Linked DNA regions of Homo sapiens. The protein of the gene in region 3 purifies or fractionates together with the protein of the main gene of each other region. This does not show direct contact. Each region holds a gene or a part of one and is shown on either strand. Other genes may lie near its edges.

Region 1 (3,517 bases), on a different chromosome or scaffold from region 3:
AGGACATTATGTTAAGTGAAATAAGCCAGGCACAGAAAGACAACTATAGCATATTTTCACTCATTATGTGGGAGCTTAAAAAACAAAACAAAACAAAACTGATCTCATGGAGACAGAGAGAAGAATGATGGTTACCAGAGGCTGGGAAGGGTACTGGGGAAGGGGGATATAAAGAGGGTTTGATTAATGGGTACAAAAATACCTTCAGATAAAAGGAATAAGACCTAGTGCTTGGAAGCACAACAGGACAACTATAGTTAACAATAATTTATTGTGTATTTCAAAATAACTAGAAAAGCAGAACTGGTATGTACCTAATACAAAGAAATTATAAATGCTTGAAGTGATGGATGTCCCAATTATCCTGATTTGATCATTACACATTGTACATTTGTATCTGAATATCACATGGACCCCTATAAATGTACTATTATGTACACATAATAAAATTTTTTAAAAAAACTAAGAATTTGCTAATAATATTTAATTTGTTGGCTTGTCTGAAATATCCTAGAAGGAGCAAGGAAATGAAGAGAGCCTCTATACTCATAAAATTTGTATTAGATTCATAGACTATACAAGGAATTATTAGGTCCATAAACTCAACAATGAAGCACATGAAAGAGGGAAAAGTATATGAAACAGGCAGTCCTTCACATGAAGGTAATCTATGTTGTTGAATACTCACTGTGGCATTCTTAATTTTTTCAAGCTGCCAAAATACCATCTGCAATAGATAATACCACCCACATCATTCAAAATCCTTCCCTGCCCTGACAGCCTTGGGCGTCCCATTGGGATCTCTGCCGAGCCAGCTGCCCAATCCCTGAGAGTTTCTACCTAGTCAGCCAATTTCTTCTTCAGGTACCAGGATGTGGGTGTTCAGATATATTGTGCATTTAAAAAAATAAGAAGGTTTTGGTGAGCTAGTCTGAAAAACCAATATTTCAAATATCATCTCTGTGACAAAGAGTCTGAAACTCTAAATCATCAACTTATATTTGAATTTCTGGAACTCATCCAATTCAGGAGCTTATCTATATAAATATATCCAGTCTGAAGAAAACAAGCCCCACTATTCTTGTGTTATAACTATGAATGTTTATAGACAGTTAACATTCACTTAACAAATAAATTTCAAAATTTCAGATCTAGCTACTTTGGAAAAGGCTGCAAAAGTGTAAGTTAAATGAACAGTATGCTGAAAAAAATGTTCTTGTTTGAGCACTAACACAATTCAGAGGCCCAATGTATCTGATGTATCTCTCTATGGAATCAACATGTAGGAATTCAAATATAAAATTGTGAGGAATCCAGTTGACTAAAAAGATTCAGTTTTAGAGATTCTCTGGCTTTACCTTGTTCTACTTTATAATAATCCTAGATGGTTTGCTTATGAGGTATTAAAGGAGCCAATTTCCATTTGGACTCATCACCTGTGACAGACATTTTGGGGGGGGTCTGACTTTAAAACCAGGTGGCATTAGAATTCCCCTTGCCTATGATAGGAAAGTACATTATTAACCTGCCACCTCTCTGTAACCCTCCAAATCAGTCCAGGCAAAGCTCCTTTCTCCTTCACTTACTCATAACTGGCCACTGTCCAAGAGCTAGTTTTAAAACCTCAAAAACTATACACGGTTTTTATTAAGAAGCTGTATTTGCTTCTTGCTGTGAATGTTTATACAATTAATACATACTTTGAATTTTTTATCTCTACAAAATAAAAAATAAAAGCCAGGCATGGTGGCATGCACCTGTAGTCCTAGCTACTTAGGAGGCTGAGGTAGGAGGATCACTTGTGCCCAGGAGTTTGAGGCTGTCGTGTGCCATGACTGTGCCTATAGATAGCCACTGAGCTCCAGCCCGGGCAACACAGCAAGATCCTGACTCTAAAAACAAAAATATATATATTTTTATTTTTTAAAGCTTTCAGTCAGCAACTTTAAGAATGCCTACAAGTTTATTTACTTATTGCATGAAATTTATTAATTTCTAGATTGAAATACTGTTAAATATTTAAAATTCGAAATATTTGGTTGTTATAGTATCCCCAAGCAGAAGGTTATATATTAGTTCTTAAGACACCAAACAAGTGATCTAGCAGAACAGTTTAATGACTTAGGCATAGTTAAATCAGGAAATTAAGAACTGTCAAATATCCAAACCTGACCAAAAACAAGCAATGGGGAAAGGATTCCCTATTCAATAAATGGTGCTGGGATAACTAGCTAGCCATATGCAGAAGATTGAAACTGGACCCCTACCCCACGCCAACCTCCTTAAACCACATACAAAAATTAAGTCCAGATGAATTAAAGACTTAAATGTAAAATCCAAAACTATAAAAACCCTGGAAGACAACTTATGCAATACCATTATAGACATAAGAACAGGCAAAGATTTCATGACAAAGGCACCAAAAGCAATTGCAACAAAACCAAAAATTGACAAATGGGATCTAATTAAACTAAAGAGCTTCTGCACAGCAAAGGAAACTATCAACAAAGTGAACAGACAACCTACAGAATGGGAGAAAATTTTTGCAAACGAAGCATCTGACAAAGGTTTAATATCCAGCATATATAAGGAACTTAAACAAATTTACAAGAAAAAAGCAAACAACCCCATGAAAAAATGTGCAAAGGAGATGAACACTTTTCAAAAGAAGACATAAATGTGGCCAAGAATCATATGAAAAAAAGCTCAACATCACTGATCATTAGAGAAATGCAAATCAAAACCACAAGGAGATACCATTTCAAGCGTCAGAATGCGTATTATTAAAAAGTCAAAAAAAAATACATGTTGGAGAGGCTGCAGAGAAAAAGGAACACTTAACACACTGTTGGTGGGAGTGTAAATTAGTTCAACCATTGTGGAAGACAGTATGGCAATTCCTCAAAGACCTAAAAACAGAAATACCATTTGACCCATCAATCCCACTACTGGGTATACACCTAAAGGAATATAAATCCTTGTGTTATAAGACACATGCATGCATATGTTCACTGCAGCACTGTTCACAAGAGCAAAGACATGGAATCAACCTAAATGCCCATCAAATGATAGACTGGATAAAGAAAATGTGGGTCCATATATACCGTGTGAATACTACACAGCCATAAAAAAGAAGATCATGTCCTCTGTGGAAACATGGATGGAGCTGGAGGCCATTATCCTCAGCAAACTCACACAGGAACAGAAAAGCAAATTCCGCACGTTCTCACTTGTAAGTGGGAGCTAAATGATGAGAGCACATGGACACAAAGAGGGGAACAATACACATTGGAGCCTACCAGAGGGTGGAGAGTAGGAGGAAGGAGAGGATCAGAAAAAATAACTAATGAGTACTAGGCTTAATACCTGAGTAACAAAATATCTGTAGAACAAACCCCCATGACACAAGTTTACCTATATAACAAACCTGCACATGTACCCCTCAACTTAAAAGTTAAAAAAATTGTTAAATATCACAATACACAAGAAGACTGTATTCTAGATATATTACACAAAA
Region 2 (3,517 bases), on a different chromosome or scaffold from region 3:
AACCCAGGAGGCGGAGGTTGCTGTGAGCTGAGATCGCACCATTGCACTCCAGCCTGGGCAACAAGAGTGAAACTCCATCTCAAAAAGAAAAAAGCAGAAAATAATTGATGTGGTTTGGCTGTGTCCCCACCTAAATCTCACCTTGAATTGTAGCTCCCATATTTCTCACGTGTTGTGGAAGGGACCTGGTGGGAGATAATTGAATCATGGGGGCCGTTTCCCCCATACTGTTCTCATGGTAGTGAATAAGTCTCACAAGATCTGATGGTTTTATAAGAGGTTTCCCCTTTCACTTGGCTCTCATTCTCTCTTGCCTGCACCATGTAAGATGTGCCTTTCGCCTTCCGCCACGATTGTGAGGCCTCCCCAGCCATGTGGAACTGTGAGTCCATTAAACCTCTTTTTCTTTATAAATTACCCAGTCTTGAGTACGTCTTTATCAGCAGTGAAAATGGTCTAATACAGTAATGTTAGGTATCTGTGGAATTTTTCAGTCATTTATTTATACCACAAACATTCGCTAAGCACCTACTAGGTTCCAGGCTCCTATGAGTTTGTAAACAAGACAAAATCCAGCCTTCAGAGAACTTACATTCTAGTAGGAACTTGAATTTATCCCTCATATCTCTCCCCTAGATTGTAAATCCATGAGGCCTGGGACTTTGTTTTGTCTACTGCAGAATCCCCCACACTAGTACAATGAGCAATAAACATTTTCTGAATGAACAAAGTACCAAATATACATGCAAATAAATAAGATAATCTCAAACAGGAGTTGTAAGGATTATATGAAACAGTCCATGTTCAGAGCTTGGCACAATGCTTGGTACATCCGTGGTATTCAATAAATATTTGTTGAATAAATGAGTAAAGTAGTCCCCCCTTATGTGAGGAGAATACGTTCCAAGACCCTCAGTGGATGTCTGAAACCATGGATAGTACTAAATAAACTCTATATACAGTCATGTGCCATATAACAACATGTTGGTCAACACTGAACTGTAGAGATGGTGGTCCTATAAAATTATAATAGAGGTGAAAAATCACCACAGCCTAAAGATATCACAGCTGTTGTAATTTTATAATGCAATGCATTACTTACTTGTTTGTGGTGATACTGGTGTAAACACACCTACTGTGCTGCCAGTCATAAAAGTATAACACATACAATTATGTATAGTACGTGATATTTAATAAACAACCATTTACGCGTTTATGTATTTACTATATTATTATCATTAGATAACTCCTTCCTCTTATATAAAAAAAGTCGGCTGGGCGTGGTGGCTCACACCTGTAATCCCAGCACTTTGGGAGGGCGAGGTGGGCGGATCACGAGGTCAGTGTTAGACCATCCTGCCTAACACGGTGAAACCCCATCTCTACTAAAAATACAAAAAAATTAGCTGGGTGTGGTGGCGGGCGCCTGTAATCCCAGCTACTCGGGAGGCTGAGGCAGGAGAATGGCGTGAATCCGGGAGGTGGAGTTTGTAGTGAGCGGAGATCACACCACTGCACTCCAGCCTGGGCAACAGAGCAAGACTCTGTCTCCAAAAAAAATAAAAACAAAAACAAAAATTAGCTGGGCGTAGTGGTGGGTGCCTATAATCCCAGCTGCTCAGGAGGCTAAGACAGGAAAATCACAGGAGAATTGAACCTGGGAGGCGGAGGTTGCAGTGAGCCGAGATGGTGCCACTGCACTCCAGCCTGGGCAACATAAGCAAAACTCTGTCTAAAAAAAAAAAAAAAATGAAACAGCTTCAGGCAGGTCCTTCAAGGAATTCCAGAAGGCATTGTTATCAATCATCTGAGATAACAACAGTTCTGTGAGTGTTACTGCCCCCAAAGACCTTCTAGCAGGATAACATGGGGAAGTGGAAGACAGTGATATTGATGATACTGACCCTAGGCCTAGGCTAATGTGTGTTTGTAGCTTAGTTTTTAACAAAAAAGTCTAAAAGGTGAAAACAAAATAAAAAACTAAAAACAGAAAAAAACTTAGAGAATAAGGATATAAATAAAATATTTCTGTATAGCTGTACAATGTGTTTTAAGCTAAGCATTATTACAAATGAGTCAAAAAGTTTTTTAAAATTTTAAAGTTCATAAAGTAAAAAAGTTACAGTAAGCTAACGTTAATTTATTATTGGAGGCCAGGCATGGTGGCTCACGCCTCTAATCCCAGCACTTTGGGAGGCCAAGGTGGGTGGAGATCACCTGAGATCAGGAGTTTGAGACCAGCCTGGCCAACATGGTGAAAACCCATCCATCTCTACTAAAAATACAAAAATTAGGCCAGGCACGGTGGCTCACGCCTGTAATCCTAGCACTTTGGGAGGCCGAGGCGGGTGGATTGCCTGAGCTCAGGAGTTCAAGACCAGCCCGGGCAACACAGTGAAACCCCATCTCTACTAAAATACAAAAAATTAGCTGGGCATGGCAGCGTGCACCTGTAATCCCAGCTACTCGGGAGGCTGAGGAAGGAGAATTGCTAGAACCCGGGAGGCAGAGGTTGCAGCGAGCCGATATTGCACCACTGTACTCCAGCCTGGGCAACAGAGTGAGACTCTGTCTTTAAAGAAAAAAAAAATCAGCCAGGCATGGTGGTGGGCGCCTGTAATCCCAGCTACTCAGGAGGCTGAGGCAGGAGAATCACTTGAACTGGGGAAGCAGAGGTTGCAGTAAACCAAGATCATGCCACTGCACTCCAGCCTGGGCAACAGAGCAAGACTCTATCTCAAAAAAAAAAAAAAAATTTATTACTGGAGAAAGAAAAAAAAATTTAAATAAATTTAGTATAGCCTAAGTGTACAGTATTTATAAAGTTTACAATAGTGTAATGTCCTAGACCTTGACATTCACTCACCACTCACTGACTCACCCAGAGCAACTTCCTGTCCTGTGAACTTCATTCATGTGCCCTTTTATACTGTATTTGTACTGTACTTTTTCTATGTTTATATACATACTTACCATTCTATTACAATTGTCTATAGTATTCAGTAGAGTAACATGCTGTACAGGTTTGTAGCCTAGGAGCAATAGGCTACACCATATAGCCTAGGTGTGTAGTTGGCTATACCATCTAGGTTTGCTTAAGTACACCCTATGATGTTTGCACAATGATGAAATCACCTAACGATGCAATTCTCAGACTATATCCCTGTCATTAAGCAATGCGTGACTACTGTTTTCCTATACATACACATCTATGAGAATTCTTAATTCATTAAATTTTTAAAAATTTTTATTTTTGAGACAGGGTCTTACTCTGTCACCCAGGCTGAAATGCAGTGGTATGATCACGGTTCACTGCACCCTTGACCTCCCAGGGTCAAGCAATCCTTCACCTTGGCCTCCCAAGTAGTGGGGACTACAGGCACGCACCATCATGCCCAGCAAATTTTTTTTTATTTTTTGTAGAGACGAGGTCTCACCATGTTGCCCAGGCTGATCTTGAACTTCTGGGGTCAAGCAATTCTCTCGCCTCAGCTTCCCAAAGCACTGGGATTAAAGG
Region 3 (3,517 bases):
CACGACATGCCTCTACCCCTCATGCCTGCCATAGACCCCTGGGACCCTCCCCCTCTCCCAGGAGGAGCTCCAAGTCACCAAAGGGGCCCTTTCCTCACCCACGGAGCAGAAGCACCCCCAGAGGCAGGCAGCACTCCAGGCCCATCCCACACATGGATGCCCTCACCTCCATCCGGAACAGGGGATTGCCCCCTAGGCGGCTCCAGGGCTCCTGACCCTTGTGGAGGCCAGACTGTGAATCCAGGGCAGATGAGGGACCAAAGAGCAGGTGGTAGACCTAGGAGGTGTGGGGGAATGGCTCAGATGGGGTGTGGGGGGCGTGGCTCAGATGGTGGGGGCGTGGCTCCGATGGACGTGTGGGGGCGTGGCTTAGATGGTGGGGGCGTGGCTCAGAGAGTGGGGGCGTGGCTCAGATGGTGGGGGCGTGGCTCCGATGTAGGTGTGGGGGCGTGGCTCAGATGGTGGGGGCATGGCTCAGAGAGTGGGGGCGTGGCTCAGATGGTGGGGGCAAGGTTCAGACGGTCTGGGCGTGACTCAGGCTGAGCATCCTGAGGATGGCTCAGCAACCAGGGGGCGTGGCTGGGGCAGAAGGGAGTGGCCAGGGCTGGGAGCTGTCCCTGCCTTACCTCGGGCGGGTCCACACGGGCGGCCAAGAGTGCTTGGGCCGTGCTATTGGGCAGCGACAAGTTTTGCGTCAGGAAACGCCAGAGCTCCTGCGGGTTTCTGGCCACCGAGTCCAGAGAGAAGGAAGACACTGGACAGGCAGGAAGGCGAGGCTGAGAGGCCGCTGCACCTTGGCAAGGTGCCCCCACATGCGCTCGGAGCCGAGCCCAACACCACAGCTCTGCCACTGCAGCCTGTGCGTGGCTGGGAACTCAGTGCAGGTGGAGGGGCCCAGAGTGGATGTGGGCTTCAGCCCAGTGACAGCAGAGCTTTGCCCGCAGCCCTGCCCCCCAACTTCCCTGCACAGGGCACACCTGTGGATCTGTCCAGGTGGCTCCCCGAGGTGCCCGGGCCCGCACTGAGGGCCTCCAGATGCTGGCGTAGGGCCTCGAGCTCTGAGCCCAGGCTGGGCCGCGCTGGGTCAAACAGGTTGCCTTCCTCCACCACGCGGTCCAGGCGCTCAAGCAGCTGCGTGACCCTGCACCATGGCGGATGTCACTCACTGGATGGGCTGGGGAGGGGTGGGTGCTCCGAGGGGCGGGTGGGCACTCACGTGGAGTTGGCGTACTGCAGGAAGCCGAACTCGTCTCGCTGGCCGTCCGGGCACAGCGATTGCATGACAGGCAGGATGCCGGCAGACGTCAGGGGCGCCGCTGTGTAGAAGGCTGGCAGACCCACGGGAGAGGGCAGGGTCGGGGGTGAAAGGGGAGAGAGAGAGAGAGGAATCCAGAAGGGGAGGGAGACAGAGGCCGAGAGGAGAAATTTAGAGAAAGTCAGGAAGGAGAAGCAGCGTTAGGGAGAAGGCGGCACAGAGCCCTGGCCCCAGCTGGGCTACAGGCCAAGCGTTCTGGGGCGAATGACTCCAGCAGGTCAGAGGTCAAAGAGCCACTCACCACCCCTTCTGCCATAACTCCCAGAGCATTCCTTTCCTTTCAGCCAGTGCAGGCCCACATGCCCTGGCACTCTCCCCCCGAAAACGTTTCAGGTGTGGCACTGCCTACAGAGCCCAGGGGAGGACAAAGGACCCCCTCTGGGCAGTGACCTCTGACCTCTGGCCAGCTGGTTAGCAGAGTGAGTGCAAGAGCCTGAAGGAGTATGAAGGGAGAGTAGCCAGGCCGCTCCAGCCCCAGCCCAGGCCAGCCCAGCCTCAGCCCAGACTCAGCCCAGAAGCCGAGGCACCCCAGCCCTAGAAGGCAAGGCCAGGCAGAGAGATGCCGCCTCAGCTTGACCCAGGCACCAGCTGTGCCTTTAGGTGGCCGGGCCTTTCACTCCCTACCACCTCCCACTTCACTGCCTGCCACCCCCCATCTGGAGCCAGCTGTTCCTGAGGCCGGCAGGGGGCCCGGGAGGGCTGTTAATGCAAGCGGGGAGGGCGCTCAAGCCAGGACGGCCCATGGGCCCCCCGCAGCTGCTGCCCAGGCCAGCCAGGAGGAGGTGGCCGCTCACTTACAGACTGCATGCCAGCCGAGGACAAGAGACCATGCGGGGAGGGAGGGGGATCAAAACAGAACAGAGGAGACCAGTGAGTGCCCACATCACCAGGAAGAGGCGTTGGCATCATCATTCGCGGCCACAGGCCAGCCCCGACCTCCACAGCCCAGCCAGGAGGCACGGCCCAGGACCACACAGGGGAGCAGGCACCGCACCTCAGGGACTCCGGGAGCAGGACACCCGTGTGCAGATGTGCACACACAGCGCAGGCGTGCGAGGTGCCGCGCTCCCCCGGCTGTGCCTGGGGCCTCCTGCCGCACTCACCTTCCTTCACGGAGATGGTGGGCTTCTTCTGTCGCAGCCCCAGCAGGATAAAGAACAGCACCAGGGGGATGAAGATCTCGAAGGCCAGGACCCACTGGAAAGGGTGGGCCCAGTGAGGGATAGGACAGACCTGTGCTCGCCTAGGCCCTCCCCAGCCTCCCATAGGGCTGGCCCAGCCCAGACAGGACCACGTGCTCCCTGGGGCCAGGGAAGGTGGGCACAGGCCCTTCGGAACCACTGAAGGTCTGAGCCCCTTCCAGGGCACTGAGGGTAAGGATTGTCTGGCTCAGCAAATCAGGTTTCCCGTCCCCAGCCCACACTGGGCCTACGTGCCCTCTGAGGAGCCTCAGGGCCTACAGGGACAAATCGGCCAGCTTGTGGTCTACTCTGACCCATGTATATCCCAGCTCATCTTCTCCCTCCCCACCTCCAGGGCTACCTGGGCAAAATCTTGGGGACCATCTGAGCCACTAGCCCCGCCTACACTTCCCACACTGCCCCGGGTTCACCTTCCTCCCACTTCCTCCCCACCAATACCGGGGCCTGGGGAGATGAGGAGGCCTGGTTGAGAGGCTTGGCCTGCGCCCAGGGCCCTGAGCCTCGGAGAAGACCTGGTAAGGGGTCTAACAGCCCCAGTCCCTGAAGCAAAGGCACCTTTTTTTTTTTTTTTTTTTGAGACGGAGTCTCACTCTGTCACCCAGGCTGGAGCACAGTGGTGCGATCTCAGCTCACTGCAAGCTCCGTCCCCCAAGTTCACACCATTCTCTTGCCTCAGCCTCTCGAGTAGCTGGGACTACAGGCGCCCGCCACCATGCCCAGCTAATTTTTTGTATTTTTAGTAGAGACGGGGTTTCACCGTGTTAGCCAGGATGGTGTCGATCTCCTGACCTCGTGATCCGCCCACCTGGGCGTGAGCCACCACACCTGGCCCAAAGGCACCTCTTTCTGCCCTGTCCCCTCTCCTGACCCGGGGCAGCCAGTCTTGGGCCTTGGAGCTCAGTTTCCCCAGGTCGGCTCCTGCTAACCCAGGCTGGGCACCAAGGTGAGCCCTAGTGGGACCTGCGTGGAGTGAGAAAGAGGTGCTTTGCTCACTTCACCT
Region 4 (3,517 bases), on a different chromosome or scaffold from region 3:
ATTTAATCTTTACAATTCAGTAAGACAGGAATTATTACTCCATTGTGAAATATAAGAAAGCTAAGGCTAGGAAATAGTATATAACTGACCTGAGGTTAAACAGTTAATAAACAGCAGAGCCAGAACAGAAAAGTCAGATCTGTCTACCTTTGAGGCTAATCTTTTTGCCACAATACCACACGCTGTTCTCAGGCTCCTGCCAGAAGTGGGTTGTGTTTTCTGCAGTCAAAGTGGATCAATTCTTGCCACTCTCCTGCCCCACTTATTAATCAATAAGTATGTAATTAAGATGAAACCTAGTGTTTAATCTCGCCAAACTTCCTTGGTAAAGGATGTAAGAAACATGTAAACTAATAAGCATGATGTACTTTTCTATCTTCAACTCCTCTCATTTATCGTTTGTCTTATTATTAACAGACTATTGTGGTGAAGCTCCTTCCACTTGCCAACAATAACATCTGATATTAATAAAATAGAATTATAAAGCAATAAATTAGCATAATGCTTATAAACATAATTGACTTAAATATAATTGTACAAGTCTTTGTTTAAAATTCATTTAAAAAATATTTTCAAAATTGATAGTTTTTAGTTACTACAAAACGGTTAAAAAAACTGATACCACACTGTGCTATTTAGTACTGTACACATGATGTTTTTTTTTTAATTCCCACTGAATTAAAAAACCTAGGTTAAATAACTGAAAACTCCTTCAATACAACCTCTCCAAAACAATTTCAAATTAAGTAGTTCAGCTTTTAGATTCTGAATTCTTCCCCCACTGCTCCACAAAATTTTAAAGGAAACTAGGTATAATTCTGACAGTATAGCTGTTGACATATTAAAATTTGTTTTTTAACACAAACATCTTAATTTATTTACTGTTATCTGTATTTTCACTTTCAAGTTTAATGGTGGCTCTAAGACATTTGTTAAAATGTAACAATATTTTGAAACTAAATGTTGATTTTTATTTCTGTTACATATGAGAACTGCCTGTGTATTTCTCTATTATTTGATGGCATAAATTTATATTTAAGTGATAAGCAGTTGAGTTATCTGAAAAACAAATTTTGGCTATAAATTATGTATTTGAAAGCATGACCATAAAATATTTTTCACCACTAACAATGATTTTATTTCAAGAATTCCATGAGGTGTAATTAATGTATTGATACATGCACATGTTTCAAAGGATACCACCAAGAAAGACAACCTAAAGAAGGGGAGAAAATATTTGCAAATCATATATTTGATAAAGGATTTAGATCCAGAATATACACAGAATTCCAACAAGTCAAAAATAAAAACACGAATAATACAAATTATAAATGGGCTAAGGAATTAAATAGACATTTCTCCAAAGGAGATATTCAAATGGCCTGTAAGCACATGAAAACATACTCAACATCATTAGCCATCAGGGAGATATAAATACATGCTATATGAATGAACCTTGAAAACATTATGCTAAAAGAAGCCAGTCACAAAAGACCACATACTGTACTATTCATTCATATGAAATATCCATACAGACAGATCCATACAGACAAATCCATAGAGGCAAATCCATACAGACAGAAAGATCAGTGATTGCTAGGGGTTGAGCTGAAGGGGAAACAGAGTGACTGCTAATGAGTACAGGGCTTCTTTCTGGAGTGATACAAATACTCTAAAATTGATTGTGGTGACGGTTGCATAACTTGAATATACTAAAAAACACTGAATTGTACACTTCAACTTTAAATGGGTGAACTGCAAGGTATACGTAGGTTGTGAAATATATCTTAATAAAGCTATTTTTTAAGTATTATTTCCTTTTCTTCTTGTATCCAGAGCTCTGAGTTTACATTTTACAAGTGGTACAAATCTAGTATGCCAAGTATTTGCCTCTCCTTATTTACACATTGGATTATTTCAAAAGTAGCTGGTTCCATCACTAAGACATCTATCATTACATTATATTTTTGTTCTTTCCACTGACATCCTTTAGTATTTTTATTGTTAAAGTTTAGATCTATTATATAATTTGCATTTATACTAAAAATTAGATCTATCATATAATTTGTGTTTATACTATTTAATGCAACAAAAATATTTTGAAGAGAGTGTAAGAAATTCCATTAAACAATTCTCTGTGGTAGGTAAGTGCAAATTATGTTCTTAGTATTGCATTTCTTTTTGTGAAACAAACAAAAAGATGCATTTGGGAAACGTCGGCATTCAATGTATTCTATCAAGGCATAAAACATGATTTTACCACCGAAGTTTCTACAATTATTTTAGCCTATCTGATTATTCCTGATTTAATATCTTGGTATAGAATGTTTACACCCTACATACTGGCAATTTGTTTTTGAAATGTTCATTTAAAGTAGGAAGTTGCATTCAGTTAAATAACTAATAAGACTTTAGCAATATGCACATACAAAAGCATATTAAAAGCAGTTACATAGCCAGGTGTAGTGGCTCATGCCTATAATCCCAACACTTTGGGAGGCCGAGGTGGGCAGATCACAAGGTCAGGAGTTCGAGACCAGCCGGACCAACATGGTGAAACCCCATCTCTACTAAAAATAAAAAAATTAGCCAGGCGTGGTGGCAGACACCTGTAATCCCAGCTACTCAGGAGGCTGAGGCAGGAGAATTGCTTGAACCTGGGAGGTGGAGGTTGCAGTGAGCCGAGATTGCGCCACTGCACTCCAGCCTAGTGACAGAGTGTCTGTCTCAAAAAAAAAAAAAAACAAAAAAAAAACCAGTTACATTCTTGTAGAATCAAACCTAAAGATTTCAGGTAATTTTCTAATAATTTTTATTTCTAAGACAAAAGTATACAAATAAATTATAAGGGAGAAATGAAAAGAGAAAGATAATGAAGAGAATGGAGGAAAATGTCTGGTTAAAATGACTTCTTTATGCAAAAAAATTAGGAGCTGTTTAGTGTACAAAAAGAAGAGATTTAAAACAGAGTAGAAAAGAAAAGCCCGGAGAATCATACTGATGGCATTTTTAGATAATTCACTGATTTATTACAATATGTACACCAAAGGACATGGGTATGATCTGTAATAAATTCATGATTAATACTGTTAAGTATATCATTCATCTCATCTAACTTAAAATATATACGTAGAAGAAAATACAATATTAATAAGCTTACATTCTTCTTCCTTTGGATCAAGCTGTGTAACACTAACAGATAAACGGTCCACACGTTCTTGCAATGAGTTGACTCTGAAGGAAAAACTATGTGCTTCATTGAATAATTCTCCAAATATATCTTCAGCATATTTACCTAAGCAAAAATGACACATATATCATAAAATTTAACATCCAGAGCACTGAGTTTTTATCTTTGCAAGCAGTAGAAATCTAGCATGATATTTGCCCTCAGATACTTTGTGATCAGAGATAAATAATGAACAATGTAATATTACAACTGGTGACCTGTTGAATTTGGAATTTATTTGGAATTACAGTTGACCCTTGAACAAAATCGTTTAACTGTAATAGTCCA

What was found. The genes of interacting proteins can lie anywhere in the genome.
Region 1: the proteins of ABCA2 (region 3) and ZNRF2 purify together in Homo sapiens (affinity purification with mass spectrometry; one large-scale study listed by BioGRID and IntAct). This does not show direct contact.
Region 2: the proteins of ABCA2 (region 3) and EDEM2 purify together in Homo sapiens (affinity purification with mass spectrometry; one large-scale study listed by BioGRID and IntAct). This does not show direct contact.
Region 4: the proteins of ABCA2 (region 3) and WASF1 fractionate together in Homo sapiens (co-fractionation; one large-scale study listed by BioGRID). This does not show direct contact.

What each region holds. Positions count from the first base shown.
Region 1 is NC_000007.14:30,326,085-30,329,601, reverse strand, and holds part of ZNRF2 (E3 ubiquitin-protein ligase ZNRF2), read right to left. Parts: intron 1-3,517. UniProt on the Homo sapiens protein: E3 ubiquitin-protein ligase that plays a role in the establishment and maintenance of neuronal transmission and plasticity. Ubiquitinates the Na(+)/K(+) ATPase alpha-1 subunit/ATP1A1 and thereby influences its endocytosis and/or degradation.
Region 2 is NC_000020.11:35,126,832-35,130,348, forward strand, and holds part of EDEM2 (ER degradation-enhancing alpha-mannosidase-like protein 2 isoform 1 precursor), read right to left. Parts: intron 1-3,517. UniProt on the Homo sapiens protein: Involved in the endoplasmic reticulum-associated degradation (ERAD) pathway that targets misfolded glycoproteins for degradation in an N-glycan-dependent manner.
Region 3 is NC_000009.12:137,021,725-137,025,241, forward strand, and holds part of ABCA2 (ATP-binding cassette sub-family A member 2), read right to left. Parts: intron 2,513-3,517; coding exon 2,419-2,512; intron 2,117-2,418; coding exon 2,114-2,116; intron 1,329-2,113; coding exon 1,217-1,328; intron 1,142-1,216; coding exon 978-1,141; intron 755-977; coding exon 627-754; intron 278-626; coding exon 167-277; intron 1-166. UniProt on the Homo sapiens protein: Probable lipid transporter that modulates cholesterol sequestration in the late endosome/lysosome by regulating the intracellular sphingolipid metabolism, in turn participates in cholesterol homeostasis.
Region 4 is NC_000006.12:110,110,166-110,113,682, forward strand, and holds part of WASF1 (actin-binding protein WASF1), read right to left. Parts: intron 3,296-3,517; coding exon 3,161-3,295; intron 1-3,160.